Homo sapiens: one gene and its partners. The protein of the gene in region 7 interacts with the protein of the main gene of each other region in a biochemical or structural test. Each region holds a gene or a part of one and is shown on either strand. Other genes may lie near its edges.

Region 1 (4,317 bases), on a different chromosome or scaffold from region 7:
GATAGGTGTTAAAACAATCATTCCTAGGTCACAGGACACACTAATGAGAACAATACCAATTAAAATGAGAGGCTTTCTTTTAATACATCTTTGTAGATACTAACTTTGAAAATAAGATATTTAAAAGGATGCTTTTTTTCTATGTATTTTTTTAAAGTGTAATTAAAACTAAATAACTAAAACAAAATTTTCTAGTTATAAATGAATCTCTTTTTGGATTTTATGTCAACTTACATATTCCTATTTTAACTCTTAAATAGTTGCATCTTTTCCCCTCAGTACATGAAAATAGACAAGAGGCTCATAACCAAAATCAGGCCTTGAAGACATATGGAAACATTTTGGAACCCACAAATATGCACTTAAAAAGGAGCTGAAAGCTGTAAAAACATGTATATTTTCTTAGAGAAGTGTTCAGTTGCTATAGTTAGTACATTTCCCAGTGACACACTTAGCTATGATGGCGAGCTTCCTCTGCCAGGCCAAAGTTCAGGACCTTTGTGCATCTACAAAATTGTGACAAAGCAGGCAGAATTTTAACCCCTGAGGCTAAGGCATTTCTTTAGGATGCTCTTCAGCTTTTCTTAAAGAATTACATTTAGAAAAGATCATCATACAATGCTGGATTGCCCAGAATGGAAGGGCATTCCATTTTTCCAAATGTGCTTCTTTATAAAGAACTCATGCCTACCTCTAAAATCAAGTTAAGAATTTTTAAGAAATTTAATAAGTATCCCGGCTTTGTCTATATTGTAATTCATAATATGCTTTTAACATGGCCATGCCCCGGGTAGGCATGATGGCTTATGTCTGTAATACCAGCACTATGGGAGGGCAAGGTGAGAGGATTGCTTGAGGCCAGGAGTTCAAGACCAGCCTGGGCAACATAGCAAGACCCCATCTTTACAAAAAAATCCAAAAATTAGCCAGGCCTGGTGGCATGTGCCTGTAGTCTTGGCTACTGGAGAGGCTGAGGTGAGAGAATTGCTTGAGCCCAGAAGGTCAAAGCTGTAGTGAGCCATGATCATGCCACTGCACTCCAGCTTGGGCAACAGAGCAAGACCTTGTCTCAAAAAAAAAAAATCCATGCCCAGTTTAAATGAGCTATGATTTGATGTATTTGCAGTACCTGCAAGGCATCTGCAAACATAAGGGAACCTATAGCTTTGTAAAGAATACCACCACTCACTCTGGCAGATTCAGTCTGGGCCAGCCGAGTATTCTAGTCTGCTGAAGTATATGCCAAGCATCAACCACCTCATCTCTAGAATAGTGGCCTACAAAATGGGGCATACCTGAAGTATGCAAAGTCATCTTTTGGGGTACATAAAGTAGAAGTTCTATTTATCTCATTTTAATGTTTGCTTGGGGTATGTGTTTTATAATTTGTACATACATACGTATTTTTGTGGTACAGGCTTGGAAAAAAATTTACTCACAGGGATATATGATTTTTAAAGATTTGGAGACCACTGTTTTTTTGGGGGGTGGGGAGGGAATTTTTTTTTTAATTGATATATCATAGTTATACATATTTTAGGGGTACATGTGATGTTTTGATACGTGTACACAATGTGTAATGATCAAATCAGGGTTATTGGGATATATATCACCTCAAACATTTTTCTTTGCATTGGGAACATTACAATTCTAGCTATTTTGAAATATGCAGTAAATTAACTGTAACTCCCTACGGTACTGTCAAATACTAGAATGAAGACCACTGCTTTTGCAAGGTCCTGAGCGCCATCAGTTTGACATGAGCATAATATATATGGCAGCCACTTGCCAACTTACCCAGTACCATCAATGCTGTTAACAGTTCTTCATCCTTTTTCCAGCTTCTACTCGAACACGAATGCAAAAGCAGAAAATGAATGATAGCATGGATACCTCAAACAAGGAAGAGAAATGAGGATCTCAGGACCTTGGTGGACACTGTGTACACCTCTGGATTCATTGTCTCTCACAGATGTGACTGTATAACTTTCCCAGGTTCTGTTTATGGCCACATTTAATATCTTCAGCTCTTTTTGTGGATATAAAATGTGCAGATGCAATTGTTTGGGTGATTCCTAAGCCACTTGAAATGTTAGTCATTGTTATTTATACAAGATTGAAAATCTTGTGTAAATCCTGCCATTTAAAAAGTTGTAGCAGATTGTTTCCTCTTCCAAAGTAAAATTGCTGTGCTTTATGGATAGTAAGAATGGCCCTAGAGTGGGAGTCCTGATAACCCAGGCCTGTCTGACTACTTTGCCTTCTTTTGTAGCATATAGGTGATGTTTGCTCTTGTTTTTATTAATTTATATGTATATTTTTTTAATTTAACATGAACACCCTTAGAAAATGTGTCCTATCTATCTTCCAAATGCAATTTGATTGACTGCCCATTCACCAAAATTATCCTGAACTCTTCTGCAAAAATGGATATTATTAGAAATTAGAAAAAAATTACTAATTTTACACATTAGATTTTATTTTACTATTGGAATCTGATATACTGTGTGCTTGTTTTATAAAATTTTGCTTTTAATTAAATAAAAGCTGGAAGCAAAGTATAACCATATGATACTATCATACTACTGAAACAGATTTCATACCTCAGAATGTAAAAGAACTTACTGATTATTTTCTTCATCCAACTTATGTTTTTAAATGAGGATTATTGATAGTACTCTTGGTTTTTATACCATTCAGATCACTGAATTTATAAAGTACCCATCTAGTACTTGAAAAAGTAAAGTGTTCTGCCAGATCTTAGGTATAGAGGACCCTAACACAGTATATCCCAAGTGCACTTTCTAATGTTTCTGGGTCCTGAAGAATTAAGATACAAATTAATTTTACTCCATAAACAGACTGTTAATTATAGGAGCCTTAATTTTTTTTTCATAGAGATTTGTCTAATTGCATCTCAAAATTATTCTGCCCTCCTTAATTTGGGAAGGTTTGTGTTTTCTCTGGAATGGTACATGTCTTCCATGTATCTTTTGAACTGGCAATTGTCTATTTATCTTTTATTTTTTTAAGTCAGTATGGTCTAACACTGGCATGTTCAAAGCCACATTATTTCTAGTCCAAAATTACAAGTAATCAAGGGTCATTATGGGTTAGGCATTAATGTTTCTATCTGATTTTGTGCAAAAGCTTCAAATTAAAACAGCTGCATTAGAAAAAGAGGCGCTTCTCCCCTCCCCTACACCTAAAGGTGTATTTAAACTATCTTGTGTGATTAACTTATTTAGAGATGCTGTAACTTAAAATAGGGGATATTTAAGGTAGCTTCAGCTAGCTTTTAGGAAAATCACTTTGTCTAACTCAGAATTATTTTTAAAAAGAAATCTGGTCTTGTTAGAAAACAAAATTTTATTTTGTGCTCATTTAAGTTTCAAACTTACTATTTTGACAGTTATTTTGATAACAATGACACTAGAAAACTTGACTCCATTTCATCATTGTTTCTGCATGAATATCATACAAATCAGTTAGTTTTTAGGTCAAGGGCTTACTATTTCTGGGTCTTTTGCTACTAAGTTCACATTAGAATTAGTGCCAGAATTTTAGGAACTTCAGAGATCGTGTATTGAGATTTCTTAAATAATGCTTCAGATATTATTGCTTTATTGCTTTTTTGTATTGGTTAAAACTGTACATTTAAAATTGCTATGTTACTATTTTCTACAATTAATAGTTTGTCTATTTTAAAATAAATTAGTTGTTAAGAGTCTTAATGGTCTGATGTTGTGTTCTTTGTATTAAGTACACTAATGTTCTCTTTTCTGTCTAGGAGAAGATAGATAGAAGATAACTCTCCTAGTATCTCATCCATTCCTAGCCTTTAAGGGGCTCTATATGCTAGAGATTTCCAAATTTATTTCTTCAGCCCTGATCTTTTCACAGAGGTCAAGGCTTTTATAGCCAACAGAACTCTTGATTCCTACTCCCCTCTACCCAATGTCTCCAAATATAAACTAAAATCAAATAAATAAAAATCTTTTTTTTCTACCCTGGTCTTTCTCCATTTTATTAAACATTTATCAAGTCAAAAACTTAGGAGCTATCTATTAATTCTTGTCTGGACCACTGCTAAAGACTTCTAACCAGTCTCCCTGTTCCCTTTCTTTCTTTACTGTCAAACTCCACAAAGAACAAAAATGATTGTTTAAAAATATAAATTGATTCACATTGCTCTCTACTTGAAGTACTTAACAGGAATTATAAAGCCCCTACTGACTTCCCATCCTCATCTTGTAGAATTTTCTCCTTGTCACTGTGCTTTAGCCACACTGAACCTTTTTCTTTAAAATGCCAAGC
Region 2 (4,858 bases), on a different chromosome or scaffold from region 7:
AGGGTACATAGAAGTATAGCAATTGTTTTTCCAAATCATCACTTATTGTTCCAGATCAATTTCATTCAAAGCCTTCCCTAATGTGATTTTCAAGAAAGTTAAACCAGGCATCCTTTATTGCAAGATCCAGGTAAGACAGGAAAAAAGGTCAAGAAATGCCAATGTCTGGTTGAATAGACATTTTTGTTTTTTTAACATGATTAACCCTTATTAAAAACTTGAGATTACTTTCAAGAGGGAAGGTATTTCAAACATACTCAAGGCTTTTCCAAAACAGTTCTGAATCAAATTTAAGCACAAGTACCTAAAATTCTGAAAAGAGGCACGCAACAATAACTTTTAGCCTAACTGAACATGAGTTACACCCCACGTATGTGCAGGCTTCATGTACAAATTCTCTTCTGATACTTCTAAACGGGTATCAGCTTGAAAATTATTCAAGATTGTATTACTAAGAAGAAATCACAATTTCTAGCTCCCAGAAACTAACAGGATTAATAAATGTCTCCATCACTGACACCAATAATCTGGGGGAAGCAGAACAGTGTAGTTGGGGTAAATAGGAGCAAGAGTCTAAGATCTCGTTGCCTCAACATACCTACTCTGAGGGTAATAAGTGTGAGTGGTTTCTGAAGTACTTAGCCAAGTGCCTTGTAGATGGGAGTTCAATAAATGGTAGGTGTCATTTTTTTTAAAAGTGTTTATTTCTTCCTCATCACATTTACAGTCAATTATTCCATTCCTCTCTGAAATAGATCCCAGTTGGCCCTAAAGCACCAACAGAGTACCTCAGAAACAGAATTGTTCTGAATGGCAAATGGTGCAAATTTAGCCCATTAGGATGAAAATGTAACATGTATTCAACATTTACAAATAACAGGCTGGGCGTGGTGGTTCACGCCTGTAATCCTAGCACTTTGGGAGCCTGAGGTTGGTGGATCACCTGAAGTCAGGAGTTCGAGACAAACCTGACCAACATGGTGAAACCCCATCTCTACTAAAAATACAAAATTACTGGGCATTTTGGCAGCGCATGCCTGTAATCCCAGCTGTGCAGGAGGCTGAGGCAAGAGAATCGCTTGAACTCAGGAGGTGGAGGTTGCAGTGGGCCGAGATCGCGCCACTGTACTCCAGCCAGGGCAACAAGGGCAAAACTCCATCTCGAAAAACAAACTAACAGACAAATAACAATCAAATTAGTGTAACTTTCGATCAATGACTTTGGATTGTTATTTTGAGGATTAATTGATTATCAGGGCCTTTGGGCCCCAGGCTGTAGTGCTTTTTTTAAAGTTCCTGTCACCCTTGTACACCTTTGTCACTGGTAGAGGAGGAAGGTGCTCTGACATGCTCTGACAACTGGGAGGACTAAACTGTGTGCTCCAGAAATCCTAATCAACTTTGTTTGTAGTGTCTGGATTTTGGGACAACTAACATAGACCACTCAAAGGTCTTCTGGCTCAGTGGAGGGGGTTCTTAGCAGTTGGGTTATACTGAGGTTGCCAGACCCTGGAGAACAGAATCCCAGCCCCACTCCCTTCCCCAGGAATGGATTAATAATTTGTCACACAATAGGTGCTTGGAAAAAAAGTATATGAAAGACAATTCACTACTAAGGATCTTTTCAACACATGAGGGCTGCTAAAATGAGAATCCCACTAAGAAAAAACTGATTGAGAGGAAGATAAAAGATGACAGTGGCAATCAACATATGAGGAAAAAACACTGAGAGTCAATAATAATCAAAGGAACAAAAGGATCGGGGACACATTGCAGACACACTTCTGTTTCCGAAGCCCACCCGGCACCAAACAGGTCAGGGCACCCGAGGCGGGCGAGGACCCGCCCTCCTCTGCTTCCCGCAGGTAGGGAGGGGTAATCGCAGGGTAGGCGCTGGCGAGGGGTCTTCTACCGTTCGAGCAGTATCAATTTCCTCCACTCACTTTTCTGACGCTGCATTTAACAAATATTTCTGGAGTGGCTACATTGGACTAGACACTGCGCGTTAGGCTCTGGGTTTCCCAGTCTACAAGGTTTTAGGCTTGCAATAACTTTCAAACATGGGAAGGCTGTTTCGCCTTGGGCATTTTTAAGAGGACAAAACAACGATCGGGATACCGATAGGTCGGCGAGCAGGCAGCAGGGCGCGGCTGCTCCCAGGAGGAACCCTGGCTCCAGCAAAACCCACCGACTGAGGGTGAATCATGGACGGGCAGGGCAGCCGAGGCCCCCGGGCCCAACCTTGGGGACTCAGTCATTCCAAAGCCACTGCTGCCGGAAACGCGCCCTGCGCCACAGGAGTCCCGTGGGCGCGGCCCGGACCTCACTTCCTCGCGGTCACCTGGGGCCCTCGGGCCTCCTGGACAGACCTGCACGTGCCAGGGGGTCTCCAGCCGCAATCCGCCCCCTTAGTGCGGATACAGCACGCGTCACCTTTGGGGTCGGGCATGGGTGGAGGCAGGCGGGGGTCTCCGGCCTAGACCCGCTCCCAAAGGGAGATCACTACCCCCGCTGCGGGTGGATCACTTCACATACGGAAAGGCAGCGGCGGCCACCGACCCGTGCCTTCTGCAAGGGCCCTCCCTATCCTTGCCTGGGGCCTGAATCTGGATACAGATGGGGGGCCAAGGGCGGACCCCTTCCATTCCCTCATCTTCCTCCAGTCGGGGCTGCCCGGACGGGAGGGTGCAGGAGGCGCAGCGTGGGGACTCCTCACGCTGTCTGCGCTCTCACATCCCCCGGACGCTCCCCGCGTGCGTGCAATCCCCCGAGGAACAGGGTGCGAGAAACGCTGGGCACCGCCACTCCGCCCTCCAGGGGACCCTCGTCCTTCTCCTCCCTTCCTCCAGGGCAGGCTCCACCGCCTCGGGCGCGCCCAGGCCGCTGCTTCCCGCAGTCCCAGGCCGAGACGCCGCGTCCCTTTCCCCTGGCGATGCGGAGGGGCGGCCTCCGCACCTCCCGCCACCGCCTTCCCCACCTCCCGCCACCGCCTTCCCCAGTTACAGAGGCCGCGCGCGGCGCCGGCACCCTGGCCTTCCCCGGTAGCGCGTACCTTGCTCTCGATCTGCTTCACCATCTTGGCTGCTGGAGTCTGACGAGCGGCTGTAAGGACCGATGGAAATGGATCCAAAGCACCAAACAGAGCTTCAAGACTCGCTGCTTGCTCTCTCCCTTTATAAACTGGCACGCCCGGCGTGCGTGTGGCGGGGGCGCGCGCGCCCGGCCGGACCTCCGCGCCCGTCGCTGCGCCCCGGCCACGCCCCGCCCCTGGAGCCTGCGAGCCGGGATCGGGGCGGGGCTGGCGCAAGCGTGGGGCGGAGCTCCAGGGCTTCGGCTCCTGTAACCCCAAGCCCAGCTCGCACTCCAGCTGGAAGTGGGGATCAGCACTGCGCGTGACGGTGGGAGGCGGGGAGACGGACAGTCACCCCCAGAGACACAAGGTCCCTCCCGGGTCACCTGGGGATGCGTCCGCCGGGCCTGAATCGAACACGCCCACGCTCGAGATGGGGACCGCCCAGGCAGGGCTGGATTCCTCGAAAAGGGCCGCCACGCCCCGGCCCCCCCAGCCACGTGAACCCCACAAAGTGCTGAGTAACGGTGACCGGGAAGTATCTCGGTGTGTACGTCCTTGCCTCCTCTCCGGAATTTACCGTGACCGTTCTCTTCTCTGTAACCTCCTTCTGTTCTTTCATTTTCACTGCTGAGCCCGCTGCTCCAGCTTGACACAGCGGTTTAGTGCGGTAGAAACGACCGGGGGACTGGTTGGGCTCTTGACCATCAGACAGCTGCGTGTGAGATGGAAGTGCCACTGGGTTGAGCTCTGCAACTTAGTTACGCAGTTGTGACCCTGGAAAGGTCCTGACCTCCTGAAGTCTCAGTGTTTCCTTCTGTAGAACGGGAATCATGATGGTCTCAATCTCACGGTGGTGGTATTTTGAGGGTTAATAGTGCTTGCAAAGGACGGTGCTTGGCACATAGTAAACACTCCATAGATAGTTCTTACTGTTCGGTGTCTTGCAGGGACTGATTGGGCCTGGCCACCTTATACAGCATTTACAATGGCACAGCACGCACACTTGTGTGAGATTCTTCTAACAGAGGCAGACTCCTGGAACAGAAGTCGGAGTTTGCATTGATCCAGGAATGCCTGTTGCAGGTTATGTCTGGCAGGGCTGGGGATTGTGGAAGGTGGGTATGTTAGCTGGCCTTGTGGAGCCAGGAGGGCCTGTCAGCGGCTGGAAGTGGAGGTTGAAAAGCTGCTCACAGGAACGAGAGCTAGAAGGCTGGGAGGGAGAGTCCCAGGTCTGTGTTTTCAGAGCTGAGCTGTTCCCGATGAAGCTGCAACTAGGTGTGATTGCCTAGGGGTGGTGATACTGCTGCCTGGCTGCCCCCTGAAATCCCTGGCTTCCTTCTTTCACTCTTTCAGACAGAGGAAGGGAGGAAACCAGAGGTTTTGAATCTATTGTGCAAAGTTTCTAGGGGGCTGAGGAGCACGGAGCATGAATATGGATATAGGCAAGGGACACATTCTAAAGACAGCCCATAGGGAGGGAAGACAGACTGCCCTGAATGCAGCAATGTTCCCAAAGAGAGGGAGGTTATTGGGGCAGAGAGGAAGGAGCTGTATGGAGCACCCAGAGCAGAATCTATAACCTGCTTTTCTGCTGCTGGGTTTTCAGTTCAGCTGCATCCCAGCTTCCTGACTTTTATCTGTTTGTTGGTGAATTTGCATGGGTGATAACAACAAATCATTGAGTTCCAGGAAGGGGCAATGCAGGCCATCCTCAGCTGACTTCTCTCCAAAGACCTTCCAAATGTCCAGTGACTCAGTGAAGGAGGTACTCCCTCTCTCCCACCT
Region 3 (4,317 bases), on a different chromosome or scaffold from region 7:
AAGAAATCACTCATATGTGAATAACGTACTACGAGTGAAGCAACATGGCACAAAGACTCCTGAACAAATGAAGCAAAAGCCCAGTCAAAAAGCTGTAGGAGTTATCACAGTCCTCCAAATCCAGCCAGCCTGGCTAGCGTCAAAGCTTGCAGCATGCACAGTCTGAGTGATAATGGTGGAGAGAGGCAGGAGAGAGAAGAGAGAGGTGGAGTACTTGCCAGAGAAATGGTTGGCTCCTCCCCATCAATGGAATCTGTCCCTGAACTCCAGCAATGCCTCAAAGATGACTCATGACGAACCGTTGACCTTTATGATACCTGCCTCAGGTGCCTGCATGGTTCACACCCAACACTGCTAATCACCCCTCAAGGGTGGGTACTAGGTTTGCTGTTTTTCTTGAATTCCCCCTAAAACACTTGCATAGTTCTGGCACTTTATACAATTTCCTTGATTGATATATAAGGTTTTATATCTAAAGATATTCTATTCTTTTTAAATGCCACAAAAATAGCAAAGGACAGTTTAAATTCCTCCAGACAAAATCGTAAGTACAAATTTGCCCTTAGCATTTGTCCATCCATTTCCCTTTTCTGGATCCACTTCCCTTTCAGTCTCTCCCCTTCTCCCCTTCCTAGGTTTCCATTGACCTTATAAGGCCCCACCTGGGCATACCCTGGAGTCTTCCTTCATCTCTTATTATCTACATTTACTTGTTTTGTGTTAAAACATTGAGGAGAAATCTAGGCAAGTTATTTACCTGTTAAGGGTTAATGACTGAATAGTAGATTCAAAAATTATTCCTTTTAGAGGATGTATAGTCACAGCTTTTCAGAGCTGAAATGAACCACTGGGGTTCATGTAATCATTGAGGATATTGAGATCCAGAGTTAAGAGAATTGCCCAGGTTCACACAGCTGGATGAGAGGCAGTATACTAACCAAGAGGAAGAAGTCCCTCTGGGAAGAATTTCAGGCCCTGTGGCTGACAGCCACATGAGATGGCTGCCGGGGAGATATTTGGGCAAGGAGATTGTTTTCTGATTTCCTTAATTCTATCTTGAGGGTAACTCTTTTCCCTGCCTGTGGTTAAAGCCTTCATTGCTCCTAAGTGACACAACTATAAGAAAATGTCTGTCACATCACATCCTGAGTGGTTCTGCAAACCTTAATAAAGTCTCCCAGGAGTGAAGATATCTCTGGCCAAAATCAGTTCTAGTTTTGAGTTTCAATGTCACTATTATTGGCAAGAGGAAGAAAAATAATTTGGAAGTAAAGCCAAATGAGAGCAATTTTAATGGAACCAAAAAAAAAAAAAAAAAGAGAAACAAAGAAATAATATCCCTTGGCTCATCAATTCTCTTCCATCTAAATAAGCAGCCAAACATTATGAGCTAGCCTTGACCAACTCTGAAAACAGCATTGCAATGCCCAGGTTCACTTCCTGTACAGGAAGAAAACATGTAGGCCTGTTCCTATGGCAACTCTTGCTTTAGCAGAAGAAACAGCACCACTCAAAGATGAGACTCTAGAGCACAGCAGAATAAACATAGTGACTAATGCAATTCGTATTCCAAACAACACTCAGGGAAAGTGAATGAACTGGTTGGAAAAAAATGAAGGAGGCAGCGTGTAGATGTTGTAGGTTGTGGGAAATTTAATGACATTCATTAAGGGGCAAATGAAGAGCAAGCCAGATAAGACTAATCAGATGAGACAGGGGCATACCCAGAACCCTGGTGATCCCCGGAGGATGGGGGCCACATAACAAACCTGCTGACCGAGCATCGGAACAACGGTTCATAGAGGAAGACATCCCAGCCCCCATGGTCAGGCCTTTCTGAACTGTATCACTTGGTTCTAACAAGTCGCCTGATTGAATGAAACCTGGCCATCAGATGGTAACATTACATCCAGTCACTGGCTCAAGATGATTTCAATAACCTCCAGGAAATTGCAACTATGCAGGCTCAAATCTCAATGTTGAAAAGAGAAAGAGAGAGAAAGAGAAAGAGAGCGAGAGAGGGATTAGGTATAGGACAAGATTTGCCACCTTCTAACAGTATGACCATTGGCATGTCCATTTATCTAACATATAGGTCTTGATCTTCTCATCAGTAAATCTGAGGCTTATGTTCTACATTTTCTCGATTCATTGCAAACAGATATAACAATTGTTTCATAAAAAGAGACACAAATTTACCTAGACATTAAAGAGTGGAGGATACTGTGGGATTTCTGTACAAAATTTTGTTGCAGTCAAAAGGGGGAAATTCAGGGCCACATTAAAATCATTTGGTTTAATTATAGCATAAGAAAAAGAGATATGAGACCAGGTGATCCCAAACTAGCTCATTCTAGAAAGCTGATTAGAAAGAGTAATAATACAACAAATAAAGGACTGGAAGAGCAGTTCTCAGAGAAAGCCTTTTAAAGTAAAATTAGGGTCATGATTATTTGGTGAGCACCCACTGTTTACAAGACACTGTACTTCAGCCATACTGATGTTTAAATTACTCTTCAGAGTAGAGAAGAGGCTGGAAGTTGGGCAATCTAACTATACCAAAAGGGCCCACCTGGTTTGGTTGATTTCTTATTTTTTTTGGAGATTACAGGTCTCTTTTTTAAAAATCTGATAAACATTATGGTAATTATCTCAAGGAAAAAAAAAACAGATAAACCCATGACATTGTGCATATGATCCAGGGGTTTGTGGACCCCTGAAGTCCTTTATAGACTTATTTGGGTTCAAGATCTCCAGATTAGGAACATAACCTCAAAACTATGGAAGCATGAAGCAGAGAGTGGAGTGTTACAGAGGAAGGTTGCTTTTTTGCTTTTGCTTGCTCTCTCTCTCTCTCTCTCTCTTTCTCTTTCTCTCTCTTTCTCTCTTTCTCCCTTTCTTTCTTTGTCTCTCTCTCTCCCTTCTTTCTTTCTCTCTCTCTCTCCCTTCTTTCCTTCCTTCCTTCCTTCCTTTCTTCTTTCCTTCCTTCCTTCCTTCCTTTCTTCTTTCCTTCTTTTTTTGAGGCATAGTTTTACTCTGTCACCCAGGCTGGAGTACAGTGGCTCTATCTTGGCTCACTACAACCTCTGCCTCCTGGACTCAAGCAATTGTCTTGCCTCAGCCTTCTGAGTAGCTGGGACTACGGGCACATGCCACCTGCCTGGCTAATTTTTTGTAGTTATGGTTGAGATAGGGTTTCCCCATTTTGCCCAGGCTGGTCTTGAACACCTGAGCTCAAGAGATCCACCCGCCTTGGCCTCCCAAAGTGCTGGGATTACAGGTGCCTGGGCAGAAGCTTGCTTTTTCCTGGAGCTCCACCAGATCATTGACACAACTTAGTCTCAAGCTGAGAGTCATGTCCACCTGCTCAAAGTGTTGAATATATTGAAGCAGAAGATATCAGGTGACACCTGTGTCTGAGGGCGCATGACCACAAAGCCTGGCAGAGAAGCCCAGGTGCACATGGGTGCAGGAAGTAGACCCTTAGGAGAATTCCGTGGTCATTCCGTTTGATTTTGGATAATGCTCTCTTCATTGAACTAGGCCTTGTTATGCATGCCTGGGTTTGGGTTCTGGCTTTCCTACTAACTAGCTTTTCCCCTGTTAACTGAATGTTGCAACCACTGCGGATCTGAGTTTCCTCATCTTGGGGGATGAGGGATTAGAGCACATCATCTTTAGATGATTACTTTTCTAAGGCCTCCGCATATTTCTCCTGACCTGCAGTCATGGGTCAGCTAAGTTACCATTCAGTTACCTTATTTCACCTGTGAATATGAGAGAATATCTGTCTGTGTTTTGTTATTTAAAATGTATGTGAATCCCCATGCTAAGTGAGTAGACATTAGCTGCTCTTGGCACAGAAACAAAAAAAGGGTAACTACGTGAGATGATGGATATGTTGATTTGCTTCACTAACATTTTTACTATCGATGTGTGTCCCTAAACATTATGTTGTATACCTTAAATATATGCAATAAAATTCATCTTTAAAAGGAAATTTAAAAATTAAAAAATAAAATGTATGTGAATCCCCAACAGATGCTGCATATTTTATTTTATTTTATTTTACTTATTTTTCTCCCAGACATAAAATTATTTTTCTTTCACTGAACAGGTCTTTGCATAATAAAGGGTACCATAATAGTAATAGCAAATTGTTACTGAACACTTGTGAGCCAAAAACTCAGTTAGTACGGGATAAGTGCTTGGCATGCATTATTTCATTCAGTCATCGCAATGTTGTGAGGTAGGCACAATTACATTTTACAAGTGCAAAAACTAAGACATAGAAGAAAATATTAAATATTTCAATTA
Region 4 (4,761 bases), on a different chromosome or scaffold from region 7:
CAGCTTTTCCCTGATCAAGACATTAGTATAGATCTTAGAGCCTCTGTTGTCTACATCTGTAGAAAAGGACACTCATCAATGAAACTATTATATCTCCTTTTTTTCCAGTCTTAACAACGGATTGGAGTATCCTAGATTATAGGCTTATGAAAAACAGATCTGTATCACTCAATAAACATATTATTAAAATTATAATCTCTTTATTATTTACATATACTGTACTTCAGATAATTAAAATACACTGCCAAAAAAAACTCTGCCAAGGCCAGGTGTAGTGGCTCATGCCTGTAATTCCAGCACTTTGGGAGGCCAAGACAGGCAGATCGCTTGAGCCTAGAAGTTTGAGACCAGCCTGGACAACATGGCGAGGCCTCTTCTCTACAAAAAAATACTTAAAAATTAGCAGGGTGTGGTGGCATGCTCCTTTAGTCCTAGCTACTCAGGAGGCTGAGGTAGGAGGATCACTTGAGCCTGGCAGTTCCAGGCTGCAGTGAGCCATGATCACACCACTGTACTCCAGTCAGCCTGGGCAACAGAGTGAGGCCCTGTCTCAAAAAAAAAAAAAAAAAAAAAAAATGCTCTGCCAAAAATAAAATCAAGTAACTACTATCTGAACTTCTATTAGGCTGCTTTAGGATTTTAGAATCAGAGAATTCTAAGATCAGAAATAATCTTGGAGGTACAGTAGTCCTCCCTAATCTGCGATTTCACTTTCTGCAGTTTCAATTACCTGAGGTAAAACAAGATATTTTGAAAGATCACATTCATATAACTTTCATTTCAGTGTATTACTGTTATTCATTTTATTATTATGTATGTATAGCAAAAAACATAGCGTATATAAGGGTTGGTACTACCTGTAGTTTCAGGCATCCATTGGGACCCTTGGAACATATCCCTCTAGGATAAAGGAGGACTACTGTAATCTAATTCAGCCCTACTTTTATAAAAGGTTATAAATACAGAAGGAAGTTAACTGACTTGGCCAAGTTCGTTTGGCAGAGCCCGTACTGGAATCTGGCCATGAAATTCTAACTAAGTATACTTTTCACCACATCATGGTTGTAAAAAAAATTTTTGATTGGAAATAATGAAAGTGATTGAAGTTTTTCCTTGAATAAATTATTTGAAATTGTTAGTAGCCTGTTTTTTGTTTTGTTTTTGAGACGTAGTTTCACTCTAGTTGCCCAGGCTGGAGTGCAATAGCGCGATCTCGGCTCACTGCAACCTCCGCCTCCAGGTTCAAGCGATTCCCCTGCTCCAGCCTCCTGAGTAGTTGAGATTACAGATGCCCGCCACTACGTCTGGCTAATTTTTGTATTTTTAGTAAAGACGGGGTTTCACCATGTTGGCCAGGCTGGTCTTGAACTCCTGGACTCAAGTGATCCACCCGCCTCAGCCTCCCAAAGTGCTGGGATTACAGGCATTAGCCACCATGCCCGGCCTAAAGGATTATTTTCAATACATTTTTAAATCCTGCACTTGCTTCTGCCAGCTACCCAGTACTCAAAAGGGTATTTTGTAGAACCCAGCCTTCAAAAGGGTCCTTAGAAAGTGGAAAGTAATTTACATATTATTCTAAGTAATGCAAAATTAGTTTAGTATGTGTTCAGAGATTAATAACATATCCCAAAACAAAAAAGACATCTGAATTGATGTTATTGATATTAGTGCCCATAATTAGTTGTGTCTTGAAAAGTACCTTAATTGTCTTAATTGTGCATTTTATCTCAACTGTTATTCACAGAGCGCAAACCAACTTGGCAAAAAGCATGCTGAAAGAATATATACAAAATACGTGATATGAACAATATGTACCTTGGGAGAGCAAAGAAAGGTAAACACAACATAGACAGATTCGACTCTTAGAACATGGGTCGTCCAGGCACGGTGGCTCACACCTGTAATCTCAGCACTTTGGGAGGCCAAGGCAAGTGGATCACCTGAGGTCAGGAGTTCGAGACCAGCCTGGCCAACATGGTGAAACTTCGTCTCTAATAAAAATACAAAAAATTAGCTGGCTGTGGTGGTGGGTCCCTGTAATCCCAGCTACTCGATGGGCTGAGGTAGGAGAATCCCTTGAACCCGGGAGGCGGAGGCTGCAGTGAGCTGAGATCGGGCCATTGCACTCCAGCCTGGGTGACAGAGTGAGACTCCATCTCAAAAAAAAAAAAAAAAAAAAAAAGATGGGTAAAATTTGGATAGAGAAGAGCATGAGTAAACACACGGAGACAGAAATAAATTTTTGCCTCCTTTAAGTTTCTAAAATTGTCTAGTTAAAAAAAAAATTTGACCCCCTACTACAAAGGTAGATGAGATCATGGAAAGCTTGAAGACCACGATGAGAAATAGAAGTTTCCATGTTCATCCTAATTAGGAGAGTGACATTATTTGAGATTTCATTTCTAATTCTAAATTTCCAGAATTTTAATTTTTGACCCTATTAGCTGAAGAAGATTTGTTGAAATATTTGTTCAACATTTGTTGAACTTATTCAAGTTTCAAAAAACAAAAACATTCCTTAAAGCATCTATCTCATCAATTCTTTAACTTTCCCATAGGGAAAGTCCACAATCTCCCTCAAACAAAATTCACTATCAGAAATATTTGCATTTAACCTCCCCTATTTTTAAACCAAGGTAATATCTTTTAGTGTTCATATTCGTCCACGGATTTAACAGAGCCTTAGTAGCAGGCTTAAATGGTAGCACTAGCTTATTCAATTGCATAAAATGTACATTATTCAATTTAGAAGTTTAGCAGACATAGAATTTCAAGAGGTTCTGTCTCTCAAAAATCATAATGGTTCCCGTTCATTCTCATTCCCTCATATTCTCTCTCTCTCTCTCCTTCTTTCCCTCCCTCTCCCAGCCATTTGATACTGTAAAATAACTGTCATCTAAGACCGTTGCAAACACCAACCACAATAACCATATTTGCTCACTGAGTTGCCACTTAGCAGGTGCAACAAGGAAATACTGTTTCTCATCTCCTAAAACCAAAAGGGTTCATCTCGTACCTAATTTGTCACTTAAGTGAAAAGCATATCACGACTTACACTAACTTTCTCCTAAGTGTCAGAGGTTGCTGGCTTAACCAGACCGGAGAAGAGCAGGATCCCCGGGCCTAGCTTTGCTGAGCGGCACAGGGGAGCATCGCCTGGAATTGGTGGGTGTCCCTCCTCACTAGTGGGCACCCCCTTGCCCATCGACCTGCCCAAACCCGAAGGGACCCCGCCAGGGTCTCGGTTTGGCACCTACCCTCTCCTGCTCCCCGCCAAGAGCCAGCCACCCTCCTCGACCCCGAAGAAAGCTCGGGTGCCCAGCTGCGAGTGGAGCAGAGGGAACCCAGCGCCTCCGGCTCGCGCTGGGAGCCCCCTCCCCGCCGGTGCCCCGCCCACAGCACGGCCCCCACCATCCTCTCTGCTCTGGCAAGGCAGGCGAAGACCGGAGCCTTATCTCCGGACTCCCCCACCCCTAATCTCCCGCCGCGCTGCTCCGCACCTACCGCGCGGCCACCGGCCTTACCTGGCCGGGTCTCGGCGAGCGAGGCTGCGCCTGGTGCTTGCGTCCAGCGCACAAACCTGTCCTCCAGCCCCCGGCCCACCGCTCCGCTCTGCCCCTCCTCCCGCCGCGCGCGCCCGCCTCCTGGCTGCCATGGCGACAGTTCCCACACTCTGCGGCCGCTGATTGGTCCGGTTCGCGATTGCTGACGACGCCGATTGGCGGGAGCAGGGACAAGGCCGCGCCGGGGAGCCTGGAGGCGGGCGGTGAGGAGGGCCGAAGCTGTGGAGCCTGGTGGGAGGCTGAGCCAGGAGGGACGTGGCGCTCTGAGATGCGGGCTCAGGAGGCCGCGCCTCTTCCTTCCCTAGCTTACCCGGAGAATCCTGTGGAGCAGGACTCGGGCGGGTGAGGTGCCGTCCTGAGACCCGGGCAGAGCCCCAGGGATCGCCTCTCCCTTGGCCTCTGGCCTGCGCCTGCAGCGCCCACGCAGGTCGGAGAATGGCTGTCAGGCCTATTCTCGCCCACAGGCCTCGCTCGGCTCTGACACCCCCGTCCTCCGCCTTGGCGGGAATCTTAACGGCATTTGTAACCGCACCCACCCCCGTTGTGCTGGGCCCTCGGTCACTGTGGTTTAACTGTATTTACCCACCTTCTCTCTTGCCCATTCGCAGACAGCTCTTTCCTCTGCATCCTGCCCCAGAGAACAGACATCTATTCCAAACCCCTCATTTTAAAGATGGGGAAACTGAGGCTCAAAGATGCACATGGGTAGCTTGAGCCTTCCAGAAGCTTTTGGAGCCACAGGCTGTTTACGAAGTTTCATCCTGCCGATTAGTTTTTTTCACCTGAAAAATTGGTATCATATCTACCTTAGGGTTATTCACGAAGATTGAATGAGATAACATTGCCAGGAAAACAGTACAGACTAGGCATGGTGACTCACCCTGTAATGCCAGCACTTTGGGAGGCCAAGGCAGGAGGATGGCTTGAGCTCAAAAATTTGAGACCAATCTGGACAACAGTGAGATCCTATCTCTACAAGAATATTTTTTACTTTTTTATCTTTAACACAATGATGTTTCAGTCTGAAGAAAATACTTAAAAATTTGCCAGGTGCTGTGTCGCACATCTGTAGTCCCAGCTACTCAGGAGGCGGAGGCAGAGGCGGGAGGATCACTTGAGCTCAGAAGGCCGAGGCTGCAGTGAACCATGATCATTGTGCCACAGAGTGAGACCCTGTCTCAAAAAAACAAACAAA
Region 5 (4,317 bases), on a different chromosome or scaffold from region 7:
TTTGGTCATTTATGTATTTTTTTCTGTTAACGTATTCACTTGCACCTGTTTTTAATTTGGGTTGTTCATCTTTTTCTAAGTACTAAGTACCTAGTACTTTTTGTGTTAGGTATTTTTTGAAAAAAGTTACTTTATCAATTTTTCTCACAGTATTTTTCTGAGTTGAAGTAGGCGCGTAGCCAGTTAGTCCTTTACTGTATTTATCTCTGATCTGTTTATAACCTTATTATTTATTTCATATTTTGATGCTACTGCATATATACCTTTCTTCAAGGTATTTTTTTTTTCTGTAATTACAGACTCCTCTTTTGGGCCCTATATAATTATATGTTTAATAAATGTATCTTGCTTATGAAGTTGATACCAAGAAAGAGGTTAACTTCAGGAATGGAGGCTGGGCATGGTGGCTTATGCCTGTAATCCCAACACTTTGGGAGGCTGTGGTGGGGTATCATTTGAGGTCAGTCTGGGCAATATAACATAGCAAGACCCTGTCTCTACAAAAGTTAAAAAAAAAAAAAGTTAGCTGGTAGCATGTGCCTGCAGTCCCAGAGGCCGAGGTAGGAGGATTGCTTGGGCCCAGGAGGTCAAGGCTGTACTGAGCTGTGGTGTGCTACTCCACTCCAGCCTGGGCAACAGTGAGACCCTGTCTCATTAAAACTACAGCAACAACAAAAACCTTCAGGGACGGGATAATTAGGGATTTGTCCTGTGACCTAAAATCAGTCAATATTTAGTGATCCACCAGCTTCGTGCATGATTCTGTATTTAACTTGCTTTTCTATTTAGTGCTTAAAGCCTTATCCTTTATTTTTCTTATGTAGTATTCTTTTGATAAACTCTTGTTTTCTACATGTTACTTTGCATATCAGGTATATACTTTTGAAAATAAATTGCCGAAATTGATGAAGGAAATGCAAAACAATCATTTTCTTTGATTAGACATATTGTCAGTCTGTCCTGAAAGGAGGTAATAGTTTTCTCTAGGTAATAGTTTTCTCAGGAGTGATTTTTGGTGTTTGCCATGTCACATTGTTACCTTTATTGGTTTCCCCTCACATTGTCAATGTTGACATCAACAAAACAAAAAAGCACCTTTGGTGTTTGTGAAAAAACATGATCTATGTGGAATGAGATAGTCCTTTTATTTCTGAGCTTCAGATTATATGACCTTAAGAATCTATGCATTTTTGTATACTAAGAGACTTGCATTTGTTTTCTCTTATCCAGCTGGTGTCAGTAGAAAGTGATTCAGAGGGAAGTGAAAAACTTTCTCAATGATTTTAAAGTTATTAGTCTCAATGTTAATATATGAAAATTGATAGTTTTTTTGAATTTATTTTGAATTTTGGTTCAGCTTAATCTAGTAAACATTTGACTTGAGGACTAGATATTGTGCTAGACGCTGGGCATTTGAATACCTGTAAGTTGTGGTTCATCTCTGCCTCTCTGTCCTAAGGAATATTCTTGGGAATGGCTAATAAAAATACCACGTTATAGTATATTTTGAAAGTTGACTGACTTTCTGTTTTATTCAGTAATAATTGGACATTTTAAATATTATTTTGTTTTGCCTCTTTTAAACTCTTGGAGAAAATATAGCTAAAATATACTATTACTTGTTTTTAACTTTCCTGAGCAGCCTATAGTTTATTCTTTGACACATTTCTTCAAGGTCACCAATTTACTATAAGCATTGATATTTAATGTACTACAGATATAAAAATTATAGGTGTAGAAGATTGAGCTAGATATATTGCCATGAATAACTGCCCTAGGAATGTCATTTTTAGACTTTTTTGAAAATATTGCCTTTATACAAGATGTGGTACAGAAAAAACGTCAATTAACTGAGGGCTTTATTAAAGATATTATGGAACTATGAATGTATATAAAACCTTTAACAATAAATTTGATAAATTTTTAAGCACTAGATAGTTAAATTTATCCTAGTTATAACTTCATTTACATTTGTGCTCCAATATTATTTCAATTTAGAATTACTGGAAGAATTTAGTCCAGTTGTTGAGAGACTTGGATTTGATGAAAATTTTGTGGATCTAACAGAAATGGTTGAGAAGAGACTACAGCAGCTGCAAAGTGATGAACTTTCTGCGGTGACTGTGTCGGGTCATGTATACAATAATCAGTGTGAGTGGGTTCTTATTCATTCTACCTACTAACCAAAAGTACATACATTTCTTAATGTTCAGTGAGTTCGCTGTGTGATTCTGAAAGATTCATGACTTTTGTTGGAGGTATAGTTATATTTAGTCAGTAATCTGTCTAGGACAGCTAAAATTAGGTGCTGCTATTCCATAATAAGTGTTAAGATTTTGATGACATGTAGCTCAATGCTCTGTGCACTTTTCATTTGCACAGAGCATTGTTCCTGTTCATCTGCACAGAGCATTCATCTGTGCAGAGTTTTCGTCTGACACAGTGCATTGGTTCCCATTTTAGAAAGCCATACCCAGCTGGGCACAGTGGAGCGCCCCTGTAGTCCCAGCTGTTTGGGAGACTGAGCTGAGAAGATTGCTTGAACCCAGGAGTTTGAGTCCAGCCTAGGCAACAGAGCAAGATCCCATCTCTTAAGGAAACAAAAAGCCATACCTCTGTAGGTCATTCTTAAGTTGTAAGAGTTGGCTTCTTAATATGCTTTTTGGAATAATTTTTTATTATTCTAAAACAATCTCTAAGCAGAGTTTTCAGGTAGGCTAGATTTGCCTTTGATGTGTCTTTTACATGTTCCCTTCGATTCCCCTTTGATGTGTGTTTTACATGTTCACTTCGATTCCCCTGAGACCCTCATGTTGCTCTCTGAATTCCCAAGTTAGCACTTTTGGAATGTTGTCCAGGGCTATCTGCCATGTGCTAGAATCTTCTCCAAGCTCCTATTTAATCTGTTCAAATAATCTTTGTCAAAGTTAGCAAGAAAGCAGAATGGTTTGTCTCCTTCATATATTGAGATATGAATGACTGATGGTGTTTCCAGTGATATTTACATTTGAAAATAAGCTGCAGTAAGCACCAGTGAATATCTGATTAGGCTTTCAGACATCTTATGACTCTGCTGGTGACTCCCCTATCATACCACATACAAGACAAGGTACTCTGCTGTTGTGTAAGACTTGTCTGACCCTTTTGCTCTTAAGCCTCCCCATGCATTTCCTCTTATCCTCTTTTTTGAGAACTAGACATCGGTCTACAGAATAGTTCTCCACAGAAGAAAAGCAGTAGAACCACAGTTTCTAGAATACATGGAGCTTTTCCTGTATCTTTTGTACTTGTGCTCATTTGTAACTTAAAAGGGCTAACTAGCAAGAATATTTCAAATATATTTCTGTATAATTTTTAAGGCAAACTTGGATTTTATTGGTTAGAGTACATTATAGAGAGCTAGGTTTTATATCCCAAAAAGGGAAATGTGGAATTATTGATTAATTCTTCCTCTTTCATACAGATTTTATTAAAATTTTTTGTAAACCTACAGAAAAGTTGACAGAATAGTACAAAAAATACCCATTATGTCTTTTCTTTTTTTTTTTTTTTTTTTGAGACAGAGTCTCACTCTGTCGCCCAGGCCGGAGTGCAGTGATGTGATCTCGGCTCACTGCAACCTCCACCTCCTGGGTTCAAGCAATTCTCCTGCTTCAGCCTCCCGACTAGCTGGGACTACAGGCATGTGCCACTACACCCGGCTAATTTTTTTATTTTTAGTAGAGACGGGGTTTCACCATGTTGGCCAGGCTGGTCTTGAACTCCTAATCTCAGATGATCCGCTTGCCTTGGCCTCCCAAAGTGCTGGGATTATAGGCATGAGCCACTACTCCTGGCCCATTATGTCCTTTCTTGTAGATAAACCAGTTGTTATCGTTTTGCCACATTTGCTTTCTCTTGTTCTCTCTATGGATTGCTTGGTTGGTTGATGAGCTATTTGGAAGTAAATTGCAGACATCCTGACATTTCATCTCTAAATACTTTTAGCGTTAGTCTCTTTGAGGTTAGGATGGTTTCATGTCATTCCAACACTGTTTTACACCTAAAGCAAATTTATTTTTATATAATTTTCTTACACTTTTCATAAAAGAGCTCTAAAACTGTGTACAGGTCAGAGATTGTTTCTAGCAGCATATACTGCTAGTGCGTGGTTAAGATTTAGATCTTTAAAGTATAATGTTAGCTTTCTTGTTATATAATAATACTTCTATGCCTACTTACGGGTAAATATGAGTAAAAGTTTTGCCAATGTCAGTAGGAATTTTTTTATGAGATCAGTTTTCACAATGTGTTAATTATTAAGCACTCCCACTACAC
Region 6 (3,907 bases), on a different chromosome or scaffold from region 7:
ATCCAACAAATATGCACCGAGAGTCTACTATGTGCCGGTCTGTGTGCATCTTTGTCAAAATGGGCCTAAGGCTTGGAATAAAAATAACTCACCCACCACTATCACCATTTTGAGTCTTGTTACAAGTTCTATTACACATTATTTAGCTGATTTTTATGTATCATCTATTTTTATGCATATCTAAAATATTACTTCAAAGAGCACCTATCATTGATAAAATGGCATTAGACAATAAAATGTCAGACTTCATTTTTCTCACTTTTTTTTGAGACGGAGTCTCACTCTGTCACCCAGGCTGGAGTGCAGTGGCATGATCTCAGCTCACTGCAACCTCCGCCTCCTGGGTTCAAGTGATTCTTCTGCCTCGACCTCCCAAGTAGGTGGGATTATAAGCACCCACCACCAAGCCTGGCTAATTGTTTTGTATTTTTAGTAGAGATGGGGTTTCACCATGTTGGCCAGGCTGGTCTTGAACTCCTGACCTCAAGTGATCTGCCCACCTCAGCCTCTCAAAGTGCTGGGTTTACAAGTGTGAGCCAACATGTCTGGCCCTCTCTTACTTATTTATAAATGTGTTCCCAACTAAAGTGGAAGCCCCTCGAAGGCAGGCATTCTATTTTGCTCATCATAGGATTCTCAGCACTCAGCATTTTGCCTGCAAGACCATGGTGCTGAATAAATGTTGGCTGACTGAATCCCTAACAGATGAACAAACAGATTAAGTAGCCAATGGATCAATCAATGACAACTGCTGAATGGCTCAAGCTGCAATCATTTTTGGTCCCGATCTTCCAACTGGGGATTCCGAGCATCCCTGTGGGTAGTGTAGAGTCTTATGCCTTCGTGGCCAGCTGCTCCGTAACTCTGAGGACTCTGGGAGAAGCCACCTTGATAGGAAAGGTGACTGACCTGACACCCCTGTGAGAACGTAAGCCCTGGGAGAGCAGGAAAATGCCTACTTTATTCATTGCTCTATCCCAGCATCTCAAACATAAAGCACCTGGCACAAAGCAGTGCCCAATTAATATTGGTTGAGTAAGTGAATGGCATCTTCCCCTGCCAAGTCCTACATAATGGCCTTCTCTAGGAGATGAAGTGGAGACAGAGCCCAGAGCCCTCAAACCAGAAGCAGGAGCCCTCTAGAGCCTCTAGGTGACACTGGACAGTTTATGCCTGCAAACAAGATGCTGCTAAGTTCAACTTCCTCTGCCAACAGATTTAAAGGAAGAGTTCACGCTCCTGCAAGGTCTGGGAGAGAATGATGAAGGTCATGTGATTTGCCTTTATAGGGCGTTTTGCAGCTTTCAAGGTGAGTGTATCTGCAAGGGAGGTACCGCCACTCCCAGTTTACAGATGAGGAAATGGAAGCTCAGAAAGAAGAAGTGACTTCCAGTACCCTTAGAGACTTTTCTGGCAACACCTGGCACTGCCCCCTTTAGGTCCTTCTAGCAACTGATCATAGAACTGGAAGTCTAGTTTCTCCCACTCCCTCTGGCACAGAGAGCCTTCACCTGTCCTTCACCCACCTGGTCCCAGGTGTCCAGAAGCATGACGTCATCCGTTGCCAGGTCTTCCTGCATGAGCTCACCAGGAACCTCTTCGATCTGGGAAGGAACGAAAGAGCATCAGTGAGATGTCTTCCCTCCCCTGGGTGGCCTTCCTTTATCTGCCCCCTGAGGGAGTGGCACAGCTGGCTGCAGCTGGCAGGGGGCCCCTTCCTCTGTGCCACACCATCAGAACTGTTTCTCCTGCCCCTGCTGCCGGCCAGTCCTGTGGAACTCGCCTCCCGAGGGGAAAGCAGAGGTGTGACCTCCGCAGGGGCTCACCACAAAACGTCCAATCTTGTTGGAGCAGGCAAAGAGGCGAGGAGGATGGGCATCCATCTTCTTGTCCTTCAGCCGTGGGGATGTGCGGTAGGCAGCCTTCCCGCCCAGGGCCTCCCAGAAGCCATCTGTGAGGGGAGGCCACGCCAGTTGCCAAGGGACGCCATCACCCCTCTCTCCCATCTCATCGGACCCTGGGACCAGCCCTGCCCAAGCGCAACCAACTGCTCTCCCTCTCCTCCCTCCATCCTAAAAATCCCAGGAGATCCAGAGGGAAGAGGCCTGAGGGAATTGGAAGGTGACGAAATAGAGGCCCAGAGAGGGCAGACTTGGCAGTAGTCACACAGCCAGGACCACTATTGGCTTGAGGCTGACGACAGCATTGCGGGATGAGGACCATTAGCTCCACTCAGCTAATGAGGCAGTTGTGGCTCGGAGAGGTTAAGCAACTCACTCAAGGTCACACAGATGGTAAGTGTTAAGACCAGGATACAAATCTTGTCTGATTCTAACACCTATACTCTTTCCACTATACCTGCTCTGTCCATGTGCAGCCATTTAAATTTAAATTCATTAAAATTAAATTCGACTAAAAGTTCAGTTCTTCATTCCCACTAATTCCCACTGGTCGCATTTCAAGTGCTCAACAGCCACATGTGACTAATGGCTGTCAAATTGGACTCGGCAGATACAGAACATGTCCATCTGCATAGAAGGTTCTGCTGGACAGAGCTGCTTTAGACCAAGTCACTCTTCACCATTTCTGTTAAGCATCAAGCAGGTGGGAATGAACTCAAAGTAACAGTATAAAGACTGCAGGCTGGCAGAAGGAAGAGCTGCCCGGCCCACATTCTGGAAACAGAGCAGGCTGGTGGCATTTCTGTCCATGGAGAGTCTAGAGATGCAAGGAGACCACTGCTCCTCTGACGCTATCAGCCCTGCCTACCACCTTTCAAGGCTTCCTAGCGAGGGACCGCCTCCTTCCACAGACCAACTGCTCCTTCCCACACTGGGCTCTCCTTTCTTTCTTTCTTTCTTCTTTTTGAGACAGAGTTTTACTCCTGTTGCCCAGGCTGGAGTGCAATAGCGTGATCTCAGCTCACCGCAACCTCCAACTCTCGGGTTGAAGTGATTCTCCTGCCTCAGCCTCCCGAGTAGCTGGGATTATACAGGCATGTGCCACCATGCCCGGCTAATTTTGTATTTTAGTAGAGATGGGGTTTCTCCATGTTGGTCAGGCTAGTCTTGAACTCCCGACCTCAGGTGATCCGCCCGCCTTAGCCTCCCAAAGTGCTGGGATTACAGGCATGAACCACCACGCCCAGGCTAGGCTCTCCTTTCTTTAGCTCCTGGAGACCTCCCTCTCTCTGGCCACAGCCCTCATTTTAATGCAACTGCTTTTATTTAACATACATTAGGGGACAGGCCCTCAGGTGGGATGGAGGGGAGGATTTAGAGCCCCCAAGCTGAAGGAAAGAAGGGGGAAACTTAATAGCTGCATCCGGACAGCAGCAGGCCCCCCACCCCGGCTCCTACCTGGCTCGCTGCCTTCTGCCACCTGCACAGGTTGGGCCCGCAGCACCCTGAGCAGCTCCTGGGCCCCCGTCTTCTCTGCCTCGCTGGCTCCTGTACCCACCCACAGGTAGGCGGCTGAGGGGGTTTTCAGAACAAAGGCATCGTTGGAGTTCAGTGCACCAGCCTTAGGCAATACCTGGGAGGGTACAGCTTGGTTAATCAGGAACCAGACAAAAAGCCCTCAGCCCCCTCCTCACAGCCCAGGAGACCCCGCAGCAGGACTAGCTCTCAGGTGGGGACTTGGAGGAACACAGCCCATCAGAGCTGAGGGCACAGACTTTGGACCCTGATGGCCTTGGTTGACTCCCATGAGTCACTAATGCACTGTGACTAGCCAACATGATTCTAAAAATCAGGGCTGCATTAACAGAAGTTGAATGCCCAGAACAAAGGAGGTGAGAGTCCCATTCCCCTCTAGGCTGCTCAGACCATCCTGGGAATCAAGTCCAGATCTGTGCCTTCCTCCGTGAAAGGGATAGTAGGCAACTGGAACGTAATCAGGAATGGCA
Region 7 (4,317 bases):
CCAAGAGACCTTGAAATTGGGGACCTTGGTAAAGGTTTCAGTTTGGGAAGATAAAAAAGTCCTGGGATGGATTCCAACAGTGTAACTGTACTCAATGCCACTGAGCTGTACGCTTAAGAGTGGTAAATTTTATGTCTATTTCACCACAGTTTTAAAGATTAAAATTTTTAAAAGTGGGGGAAGTTACCTAGGACTTTCTAGAAGGACTTTTGAGGGTGAGCAAGTTCTGTTATAGGCTTGTGTATTATTTTGGTATTTCTGATTTTATCATAGGAGTGAGGTTAAAGTTGTATTTTGACTGGAATTTTTGACATTGTCAGGGTTTCTAGAGTGTGGAGAAGGTCACTCAGTATTTTTTGTTTTTGTTTTTTGTTTTGCCTTTGTTCTTGTTTTCCTCTATTTAGGGAGGTGGATTGCCATGGGAAGTACCTTTGCTTCGAAAAGCCAGAAAATGCCTGGTAGAACTCCAGAAAAGTAGTAAGGAGCTGGCTTCTTCAGAGGCAGCATAGCAGAGTGGGAAGAGGGCCCTGTCACTTAGATTGTGACTGTCGACAAAGTCACTTAACCACCAGAAGTTGGGTTTTCTGACGTTTAGAATTTTGAAAAGATTAAAACTGAGTGCCTTGCAAAGTACCTGGTATATATTAAGTGCTCAATAAGTGATAGTTGCTTTGATTCTAAGAACTGGTTCACCTTGTGAGATATAATTGTGTAATGGAAGAATGAAAGCAGAAACTTTAGTTTCTACTTTTACATTTCCTGGGCCATTTTACTACCCTAAATGAGAAGCTGGGCTTCCAAAACCCACTTTAAAAGTAAAGACTAGGCCGGGTGCGGTGGCTCTTGCCTGTAATCCCAGCACTTTAGGAGGCCTAGGTGGGCAGATCACTTGAACTCAGGAGTTTGAGACCAGCCTGGGCAATACAGCGAGACCGTATGTCTACAAAAAATACAAAAATTAGCCAGACATGGTGGTGCATGCCTGTAATCCCAGCTACTCGGGAGGCTGAGGCGGGAGAATTTGAGTCCAGGAGATCGAAGCTGCAGTGAGCCGTGATTGCGCCGCTGCCCTCCAGCCTGGGTGACAGAGTGAGACCCTGCCTCAAAAGAAAAAAAAAAAAAGAATAAAGATTAATGGAGATTTGGAACATCTTGATACTGTATCTTGGGAATCTAAGCATTGTAGAATTGTGTTATGTGAGTTATACCATTGTGGTGGGAAGTTTTTGATTTTTGTTTTAACTGTGTTGAGTTGCAGTTCTTAGAAATGACCCGAGGTGTTGTCTTACAAAAGAAATAAACTGTAATCTGTATCTTGATCTGATGAGGGTATGTAAATATAAAAAATCGAGCTGTATACTTTCTATATGCTTTATGTAGTTCACTATATATAATTCATAGCTCAATTAAAAAGAGAGAGAGAGGCTAAATTGTATGTACCATTGCAAAGAAATCATTATCCCCAGAACTGACTCACATACACCTTTAACAGTAGAGGGAGAACTGAGGTATTAATTTGGAAAAATAATCACTGGGATAATTAATATAATGCAGTGGTTTTATGACTGATTTTTTATTAACTTCTATTTTCTTTGTATTCTAGTTAATAAAGGTATCCATGGAGAACACTGAAAACTCAGTGGATTCAAAATCCATTAAAAATTTGGAACCGTGAGTATTTAAATTGAATTCTTTATAATCAGAGAAAGATGGGGATGTGTAATAAGCAAACCTCGAGCAGTGGGGCAAGAGGAAAGAGAGTGGTCTCTCTCTCAGGCCAGAGAGACCAAGTGACTTCCTACCTCAGACAGCTGTGTGGCTTTGCATAAACTGACTTTTCTTCTCTGAACCTCGTCTTTAACATGGGGCTAAAACTTTCACAGAACTGAAGGGAAGATGAAAGGAAAGGCCTAGTAGGGTGTGTGACCCATAGTTGGAAACCTAGTCCTGGAACCAAAAGGACACCACAGGAGAGGCAGGACTCCCAAGCGCCGGTGCTTTCTACCCTCCCGAATCGCTCTATAGGATTAGAGGGTTTAGGTTTGGGAGGAGTTTCTTGACCTCTTGTTTATGAGTTTTTACGACTAAAATGCAATGCCAGTTTTCAGTCCGGGGACAAACTGCCTAGTTATGGATGAATTTTACCCTTTTTTTCCCCGTGTCTTTTTGGAATATTCTGCTTATTAATGCTTCCAATAACTAGCAGATGGAAAAAGGAAAAAGATAAAACTCAAATTCACTTTTTAATTCTTGTCTGTTATTATTTATTTGGGATCTCTCGTAATACTTTAAATTCTGAAAGTTTATTTCTGAAACCCAGTATTGTTATTCTCGGCTGCCCTGAATATTACAAACTAATTTTATTACTAAACAATATGATTACAGAAATACTATTAACAAGTTACCACTAAAGATTTCACAATTTTGTTTAGCAAAGGGATTTTTCTAGAAAGTAAACTTTTAAAATGCAGTCCCATTTTAGAGAGTTGTTGCTGTCATTTAAATCATTTTAGCCAGTGCAGTGGCTTGCTCCTGTAATCCCAGCTACGTGGGAGCTGTGGCAGGAGGATCACTTGAGGTGGAGAGTTTGAAACCAGCCTGGGCAACATAACGAGACCCTGTCTCTACAAAAAAACAAAAAACAATTAGTCCACCATAGTGTGTGTGCTTGTAGTCAGTCCTAGCTACACGCCAGAGGTTACAGTGAAGTAAGACCCCATCTCTTCAAAAAAATCCTTTGAAAGTGATTTACACATTTTCCTACTATTTTTTTTTTCTTTCTTTTTTGAGACAGGCTGGAGTGCAGTGATCTGATTATGGCTCACTGCACTCCTGGGCTCCAGTAATCCTCCTGAGTAGCTAGGACTACAGACATGTGCCACCATGCCTGGTTATTTTTGTTTTTTATTTTTGTAGAGATGGGGGTCTTGCTGTGTTGCCCAGGCTGGTCTCCAATGCCTGGCCTCAAGGGATCCTCCTGCCTCGGCCTCCCAAAGTGCTGGGAGTACAGGTGTGAACCACCCTGCCTGGCCCTACCTTTTCATGTCATGCAGAACACCACTTCAATAACAAGTTGCACGGAAGCCCCAGACAGGTTTAGGGTTGTTTCGATCCTTTGGTAAGTTGCCCTCACAGTCCCGGCTTTCACAGCCTCTGCCTTTTATTAGGAGTATCCCCTCGTGGACTAGCTATCATATGCTTGTAAAGTACCTACCTCCTTAGGAGGCACCCAGAGCACGTGGGGAAGGGGTGTCGGGAGCTGGGAGTCATAAGTCCCATGATCCATCATCTGTAGGACTCAAAGGTCAAGTCACGCTTTCAGGATTTAACTTCAGTCTGTAAATGTGAGGCTGTTCACCTCTGGTTAAAAATCATAACTGTTTTCTCACGTTGACTCCTTTAATTTACTACATTTAATCTTTTTCCAACAGTATTTTTGGAATTGTGTATAATGTGAGATGCTCTTAAGGTTAAGTGCATGAGTATATGGACTGTAGGTGTTAGTGTTTGGTAGTTCCTAGACCTGTTTTTGCCTGACTCTTGGTCTAGATCAGGGATCAAGCTTAAGGCCTGTTTTTATCAACTTTCGTTGGAATATAGGCACATCCATTCGCTTACATATTGTCCTAAGCCCGTTTCACCAGTATAATTGAGCAGCTATGGCTGGGCACAGTGGCTCACAACTGTAATCCCAGCACTTTTGGAGGCCAAGGCAGGAGGATCACTTGAGGCCAGGAGTTCAAGACTAGCCTGGGCAACATAGCGAGATCCTGTCTCTAAAAAAGAAAATACAGAAATTAGCTGGGCATGGTGGGGCATGCCTGTCTGTAGTCCTAGCTACTCAGAAGGCTGAGGAAGGAGTATCACTGGAGCCCAAGAGTTCAAAGTTGCAGTGAGCTATGATGGCACCACTGCACTCCAGCTTGGGTGACAGAGCCAGACCATGTCTCAAAAAAAAAAAAAAAAGAATAGAATTGAGTAGCTGTAACAGAAACCAGATGGCCCACAAGCCTAAAACACTTAATATTTAGCCCATTAAAAAAAAAGTTTACTGACCCCAATCTAGATAGCAGAGGTTTTTTTAGATAAGTGACTTCCAGACAGATATTTTCAATTATTTACAATAATGCTTTTATATATTAATAAATTACTAATTTGTTTAGCTCATGGGGTTTAAGGAATAATTTATGAATTGTGATAAATATTGTGCTTTGAGTTATATTTGCATTTTGTTGATTTCCCATCATTTCAGGGTAATTTTTAAGATTTTTACTCTTACCTCAAAGGATAAAATATTTCACAAAGTTAATAAGTAAT

The links.
Region 1: of the proteins of CASP3 (region 7) and RB1, one has a biochemical effect on the other in vitro, tested with the Homo sapiens proteins (2 studies listed by BioGRID).
Region 2: the proteins of CASP3 (region 7) and TXN interact in a biophysical measurement, tested with the Homo sapiens proteins (one study listed by IntAct).
Region 3: of the proteins of CASP3 (region 7) and ARHGDIB, one has a biochemical effect on the other in vitro, tested with the Homo sapiens proteins (one study listed by IntAct).
Region 4: of the proteins of CASP3 (region 7) and NUCB2, one has a biochemical effect on the other in vitro, tested with the Homo sapiens proteins (one study listed by IntAct).
Region 5: the proteins of CASP3 (region 7) and POLI form a complex in vitro, tested with the Homo sapiens proteins (one large-scale study listed by BioGRID).
Region 6: of the proteins of CASP3 (region 7) and GSN, one has a biochemical effect on the other in vitro, tested with the Homo sapiens proteins (2 studies listed by BioGRID).

The regions. Positions count from the first base shown.
Region 1 is NC_000013.11:48,478,157-48,482,473, forward strand, and holds the end of RB1 (retinoblastoma-associated protein), read left to right. Parts: intron 1-1,822; coding exon of another isoform or gene 1,823-1,841; coding exon 1,842-1,915; 3' UTR 1,916-3,734; downstream 3,735-4,317. UniProt on the Homo sapiens protein: Tumor suppressor that is a key regulator of the G1/S transition of the cell cycle. The hypophosphorylated form binds transcription regulators of the E2F family, preventing transcription of E2F-responsive genes.
Region 2 is NC_000009.12:110,253,360-110,258,217, forward strand, and holds the start of TXN (thioredoxin), read right to left. Parts: upstream 3,149-4,858; 5' UTR 3,077-3,148; coding exon 3,053-3,076; intron 1-3,052. UniProt on the Homo sapiens protein: Participates in various redox reactions through the reversible oxidation of its active center dithiol to a disulfide and catalyzes dithiol-disulfide exchange reactions.
Region 3 is NC_000012.12:14,950,977-14,955,293, forward strand, and holds part of ARHGDIB (rho GDP-dissociation inhibitor 2), read right to left. Parts: intron 176-4,317; exon of another isoform or gene 1-175. UniProt on the Homo sapiens protein: Regulates the GDP/GTP exchange reaction of the Rho proteins by inhibiting the dissociation of GDP from them, and the subsequent binding of GTP to them. Regulates reorganization of the actin cytoskeleton mediated by Rho family members.
Region 4 is NC_000011.10:17,275,595-17,280,355, reverse strand, and holds the start of NUCB2 (nucleobindin-2 isoform 1 preproprotein), read right to left. Parts: upstream 3,618-4,761; 5' UTR 3,528-3,617; exon of another isoform or gene 3,504-3,527; intron 3,334-3,503; exon of another isoform or gene 3,059-3,333; intron 1-3,058. UniProt on the Homo sapiens protein: Calcium-binding protein which may have a role in calcium homeostasis. Acts as a non-receptor guanine nucleotide exchange factor which binds to and activates guanine nucleotide-binding protein (G-protein) alpha subunit GNAI3.
Region 5 is NC_000018.10:54,275,705-54,280,021, forward strand, and holds part of POLI (DNA polymerase iota isoform a (long)), read left to right. Parts: intron 1-1,998; coding exon 1,999-2,151; intron 2,152-4,317. UniProt on the Homo sapiens protein: Error-prone DNA polymerase specifically involved in DNA repair. Plays an important role in translesion synthesis, where the normal high-fidelity DNA polymerases cannot proceed and DNA synthesis stalls. Favors Hoogsteen base-pairing in the active site.
Region 6 is NC_000009.12:121,326,935-121,330,841, reverse strand, and holds part of GSN (gelsolin), read right to left. Parts: intron 3,535-3,907; coding exon 3,360-3,534; intron 1,952-3,359; coding exon 1,827-1,951; intron 1,605-1,826; coding exon 1,527-1,604; intron 1-1,526. UniProt on the Homo sapiens protein: Calcium-regulated, actin-modulating protein that binds to the plus (or barbed) ends of actin monomers or filaments, preventing monomer exchange (end-blocking or capping).
Region 7 is NC_000004.12:184,635,755-184,640,071, reverse strand, and holds part of CASP3 (caspase-3 isoform a preproprotein), read left to right. Parts: intron 1-1,603; coding exon of another isoform or gene 1,604-1,618; coding exon 1,619-1,671; intron 1,672-4,317. UniProt on the Homo sapiens protein: Thiol protease that acts as a major effector caspase involved in the execution phase of apoptosis. Following cleavage and activation by initiator caspases (CASP8, CASP9 and/or CASP10), mediates execution of apoptosis by catalyzing cleavage of many proteins.